2 linked regions of the Homo sapiens genome follow. The protein of the gene in region 2 interacts with the protein of the main gene of each other region in a pairwise test. Each region holds a gene or a part of one and is shown on either strand. Other genes may lie near its edges.

Region 1 (3,500 bases), on a different chromosome or scaffold from region 2:
AGATGTAATTTTCAGGAGTTAACCACAGCAAGATGATTGTTGAAGCCTGGGATTGGTAAGAAAGTATGTAGGTAAGAACAAAATATCTAAGAGAAGCTTGGGGAGATGCCTTTCTTTAAGCAGTGGAGTATCAAGGAAACCAAAAGAGTAAAATGCAAAGATACAGTGCTCCTGGGGATGAGTGGGGGATGTATAGTGTTATGATGTTATAAATGGGAGGAAGGCTGGGCGCGGTGGCTCACGCCTGTAATCCCAGCACTTTGGGAGGCTGAGGTGGGCGGATCACAAGGCCAGGAGCTCGAAACCAGCCTGACCAACATGGTGAAACCCCACCTCTACTAAAAATACAAAAAGTAGCTGGGCATGGTGGGGCATGCCTGTAATCCTAGCTGCTCAGGAGGCTGAGGCAGGAGAATTGCTTGAACCCAGGAGGCGGAGGGTTGCAGTGAGCCAAGATCGCACCACTGCACTCCAGACTGGGCGACAGAGCGAGACTCCATGTCAAAAAACAATAATAATAAAATTAAAATAAAATAAAATAAAATAGGGAGAAAAATCTTAGAATACAACTTCTGTAAATATGACTGCTGCAAGCTTTGTACATAGAATGCAGGAAAGTGAGATCCACATTTTATTTATCTTCACATTCCCTACCCTATTACAGTATTACTATAGTACAGTATATGGCAAGAAGAAATTATTTCCTAAATGAAGGAATGAATAGGACTTTGGCATCATCATAAATATATTGGTCTTCGGTCAAAATTTCCACGAAGTCCTGACACTTGTAATTTTTGTGTCTGTCATCACACCCATTTCCATCTCTCCCAAACCAATGTGGAAAGAAAGGAACAAAGCTTGTTCTTATTAGTGTCTTGAGTCTTTCCAGGACAGAAACAACCTGATCAAAAATAGAGTAGGAAAAGAGGATAGAACAGGAGGCTACTGAATTATCAGTGAGGGGGAAAATGCTATAGCAAGAATTGAAAATGTGGACTAATCTGATAGTTTTCTGACCCAACTTTATCATTATCTGGAATTATTTTCTAGACACTACTAGTGTCATTGGCACATATATTACTCTTTCTCTCTCAGAGCATTTCCTAATTTAGAAAGAAAAACTGACTACAGATAAAACTGGATCAATTCTTGTTCTGTGAATCCAGGCTCAATACAATTTAATGTCTTTTAATTGCTGCCCTATTTTGTATTAATTTCATGTTACATTTAATTTCAACAATGATTACTGGAATTTCGTAGAACAAGAGGAAAAGTTAGGCTTGATTTTTGACACAATTTTAAAACCTACAACATTTTGACATTTATTGGGACATCCCACCTTATTTTAAAGTTTTATCACTGTGACAGCAGGCCTATTCCAGTAAGCAGAAGCTAGCATATAAATATTATTTATGGGTTTTAATGGCCATATAACTTCTAACACTATTTTTAAAAACCAGTTTTGTACATTTTGTGTTATAATGGTTATGAAGATTAAAAATAAAAATAATTAGCTGGGCGCTATGGCTCACGCCTGTAATCCCAGCACTTTGGGAGGCGAAGGTGGGCAGATGACCTGAGGACAGGAGATCGAGACCAGTGGCCAATATGGTGAAATCCTCTCTTTACTAAAAAATACAAAAAATTAGCCAGGCATGGTGGTGCATACCTGTAATCCCAGCTACTTGGTAGGCTGATGCAGGAGACTCACTTGAACCTGGGAGGCAGAGGTTGCAGTGAACTGAGTTCGTGCCAGTGCACTCCAGCCTGGGTGACAGAACGAGACTGTCTCAAAATAAATAAATAAATAAATAAATAAATAAATAAATAAATAAATAAATAGCTGCACATATTTATACCTAAAATTAAAATCTGAAAGAAAAAAAGCAGATATTACATTTAAAAATGCAGTATGAATAAGTTTGTATTTCTAATTTTACTCACAAATTATGATTTCTGGTAAGATTGCTTTTTATGGTTAAGACTACTAAGTGGTTTACCTAAGATACATCTAAAGTAATTAAGCAACTAAGCCAGATTGCATCCAGATATGAAAATATACACTATAATATATTCCAATGACCTCTCAAGTATAAAATCATTCAAATGAAGCATACTGGAATATGGCAGCCCAAACCACCCAGACAAAAGGAGTATATAAACTTGGTCTGTGGAGCAGAATGTCCATTGGTAATAACAGAAAAACCTACGGTTATGGGAAAACAGGATACAAAAAAAAAGATCCTATTGCCAGCAAATTACTTGAACAGTTTTGAAAGCAAATTTCAATCCTTTCCATTTATCTGTTTCTTACAGCATTCCACCAATCATACATCTTTGCCATTGGTTTGTTTTCAGGATATCTATATTCACTGGGATAAACATTTATAATTTTAACATACAGATATACTAAAATATTATTTATAACCTACTTGCTTATACCCAATATTTATGAGATCCTATGTGTATAAATATATGGTATTTATAAATATCATATAGGTATAAATATATGTATAATAAATCACACATGTATTTATATGTATATTATATATTATACATAAGCTGCATATATTTATAAATATATGTATACATATGCATATATGTATATTATGTGTATGCATATGCATATATGTATGTGTATACAAATGCATATGTATTATATGTATACATACATGTATACATATTATATGTATATATTATGTGTGTACATATATGTATGTATATGTACACATATGCATATATGTATATACATATATAAATGCAGGTGCATGTATGTACATATGTATAAATATATGGTATTTCTACATATAGGATTTCATAAATATTGGGTATATAAATTATATATATATATATATATATATATATATATATATATGGCCTAACTACTGCCAGTGTTGGGTAGATTCTAATAAGAACAATAGCATGATTCTGTCTTCAGTGCATTTATAAACTTGTTGCCAAAACAAGTTCTATTCACATAGAACAGAAAATTTTAGACTGCAACAAAGTGCCAAAAGGTATGGTACAAATAACAAGTGCATAGGAAGAGTTCAATCTTGCCTCAAATAGTCAGGAAATGGTGACTAGAAAGATAAGTTATTATGCAGACTAAAGGTAAGGGGAATGGTCTCTTTAGAAATAATTTGCACCTTGAATGTTCTTTGCCCTATAAGTTATTTTCATTATTTTAGAAAACATTTTTCTCTTTTCAGCTTCGTGGTGGATCCTGAACAACTAGATGTTCCTAGACATTTTCTTTATGGTTCCAAGTGCAAAACAGGTGTTCTTATCTAAAACGTCAATTAGAAAATTATCTGCGGTTGTTAATCTACTGTATATTTTTGTTTGGTATATTTACTAAGTGCACTCTTTCAAAACTTATTCTATAACTTTATCAATTCATGTGAATTTTAGCTCAATTTTCAAAGTTCACTAATATTCTCAATATTTAATGCTAAATGCTTTGCTACATTGTAACTCACCTAAAACCTTTTAGTGAC
Region 2 (2,793 bases):
GGAGAAAAGAAAGATAATGCATAATTAGGAATTTTAATTTTGATCCCCCAAAAGAGTCCTGTTGAAATACAGTAAAGGACACAGTTCTTCTCTCCAGGCAGCTTTTCCAAATACAAATTTCACACTTTCCAAATAAGGGCTTTTCTTGATAGGTTACTGATTATGGGTATTAACAGGAGTTGAAAGAATTGAAGGGTTAGTCACCAAAAAGACAGATCTTAGTCTTAAATCATAGCAATTCTTGGCTTTATAAACTGTATTGATACGTTCTCCTATAAACTAGTCCCAATTTCCTTCATGGGCCTTCACTGAGTTACTTGTAGCATTCTAATGGAAGAAGAGAGTTTAAGAGATTTAAGAGACAGCAGTTTGGATTTTGCTGGAAGTAAGGATTTTGCTGCTTGAGCACTTGTCTTTTTGGAGTAATTCCATTTTCTTCCATCAAGTTACATAAACTGTATCTGGAAAAAAAAAGTGGGTATGTTAATTCATTGTATTGTAGGATGTCTTCTCATAAATAAAAATGCTTTGTGGTCTTTACCATTTAACTGGCCCAGAAGTGTTCACAACATGCTTATCACAAACCCTGTTTATAAAACAAAGTCAGTATTATCAACTTATGTGCCAGAAAGCTCAATATTTGACACATATAGGGACTTCCAAATAATGTTTTTTGTTGTTGTTTTTGAGACAGAGTCTTGCTCTGCTGTCTAGGCTGGATTGCAGTGGCATGATCAAAGCTCAATGGCTGGGCACCATAGCTCACACCTGTAATCCCAGCACTCTGGGAGGCTGAGGTGGGCAGATCACCTGAGGTGAGTTCGAGAGTTCGAGACTGGCCTGGCCAATATGGTGAAACCCCGTCTCTACTAAAAATACAAAAATTAGCCAGGCGTGGTGGCGGGCGCCTGTAATCCTAGCTACTCGGGAGGCTGAGGCAGGAGAATGGCTTGAACCCAGGAGGTGGAGGTTGCAGTGAGCTGAGATCGTGCCACTGCACTCCAGCCTGGGAGACAAGAGCGAAACTCCATCTCAAAAAAAAAAAAAAAAAAAAAAAGCTCATTGGAACTCCTGGGCTCAAGCAACCCTCCTGCCTCAGCCTCCTGAATAGCTAGGACTGCAGACAGTCGCCACCACACCTGGGTAATTTTTGGGTGGGGGTAGAGACTAGGGTCTCACCGTATTGCCCAGGCTGATCTTGAACTACTAGCCCCAAGTGATCCTCCCGCATCAGCCTCCCAGGGTGCTGGGATTACAGGCATAAGCAACCACATCCAGGCCAAATACTTAACTGCTAAAAATAGAGGAATAGCATGTGGAGGAGGAAAAGAAAGAAGATCAATGACCTATTTTTTCATGACAAGTTCAGAAAAATCTCTCCATAAGCACAAATACCACAAGCAAAATCTCATTTGGGAAGCAAAATTTGAAATATTATTTCCAAATGATATACAATTAGAGACAATAAAGGGAACAGTAATATTATACTAAGTCTTTTTATTAACATAAATAAGAACCTGAAAGAGCCATAAAAATATTTTTCAATAGGGTACTACTGTTCATTCAAAGATATTTCACTCACAATTTCCCTTAAACTGCCCATCCAAAGATTACTGAAGTAGATGTGCTAATAAACTTGCCAAATCAGAAGACTATAAACTCCCAAAGATCTAGAAGGTATATCTAAACTGGGGGCTAGAGCATCAAGAAGAACAAATTACACTGTCTTCCAGCAAACAGAGGCAGTGTGGATCATATGCAGAATCCTTCTAATCGAAAGGGCTTAAGTATTCACTTGCCCTTAATTAAAAAGCAAACTTTATCCGATCTCATCCATTTACTGTGAGCAGTGGATGAGATTACTTTAAATAATTATGTTACAGATATTTTCCAAAAGTTGTTTTTCCTTATGTCCTATCTTTTCATTCTGCACCTAAAGAATAGAGGAAGAGGAGGAGGAGGAGAGGGAGCCTAGAGTCCTTTAAAGAAATGAAAGAGAAGCGTGAATTGTGTTTAATGTTTGGTAATTGTTTTTAAGTATTTAAGTCCCCATCTCCCAAAACAAGTAGCAATACCTAAAGTGATTTATAAGAAATCCTCCAAAGAGAGCTCTGCAAAGGGGTCCTTTCCTGAAGCTCTGTGAGGACTGTGACTGGAGGGGCTGGATGCTGCCGACAGCTGGGGGAAAAGAAGACAGAGAGAGGGAAAGAAAAAAAGATCTCAGAATGACAGAACATGAAAGCAGAAAATGTATGAAAGAAGAAGTGGTTTTGGTTTTGTCATCTTTAATAAATATAAGGGCAGTCTTTGTAGAAAATGGATTGTTAAGACAAAAGTTTCAGTCATATGTCAAGTTAAAAGGTATGCAATGGCATGTGTTTTTCAGAAAACAAACTCGTGCTTCTGAAGTTTCAAAGGAATAATGTCTTTTACCCAAAAGGTCGATATAAGCTGACCCATGGTTAAGAATTTTAATGTGTGTATGGGGGGTGGTGGGGGGATAGGGGAGGGAATACATAATTGCATTTTTGTTTAAAATTGAGAGAACATGGTTTCCTGTGTCCAGGCTATCTGTCCAAAGCTGTGCAACTCTGACCTCAGTCCGGACCCAACACATCTAGCTGCAATATTCTTTCCTTTCTTTCTTCATAAGGGTCGAAAAGTCCTGTCCTAGGTTCACACACTTTTTACACGAAGTTGTCTCCTGCTCATTTATCTTGACGAACTGCAGCTGACACACGTACTGTGGGAGGTGAAAGGGACCTTAGAGGTCACCTACTGTAACTGTCCACA

What was found. The genes of interacting proteins can lie anywhere in the genome.
Region 1: the proteins of PICALM (region 2) and NECAB1 interact in a two-hybrid assay, tested with the Homo sapiens proteins (one large-scale study listed by IntAct).

Annotation. Positions count from the first base shown.
Region 1 is NC_000008.11:90,952,275-90,955,774, forward strand, and holds part of NECAB1 (N-terminal EF-hand calcium-binding protein 1), read left to right. Parts: intron 1-1,669; exon of another isoform or gene 1,670-1,712; intron 1,713-3,212; coding exon 3,213-3,238; coding exon of another isoform or gene 3,239-3,294; 3' UTR 3,295-3,500.
Region 2 is NC_000011.10:85,958,600-85,961,392, forward strand, and holds part of PICALM (phosphatidylinositol-binding clathrin assembly protein), read right to left. Parts: intron 2,179-2,793; coding exon of another isoform or gene 2,086-2,178; exon of another isoform or gene 2,076-2,085; intron 462-2,075; coding exon 447-461; 3' UTR 1-446. UniProt on the Homo sapiens protein: Cytoplasmic adapter protein that plays a critical role in clathrin-mediated endocytosis which is important in processes such as internalization of cell receptors, synaptic transmission or removal of apoptotic cells.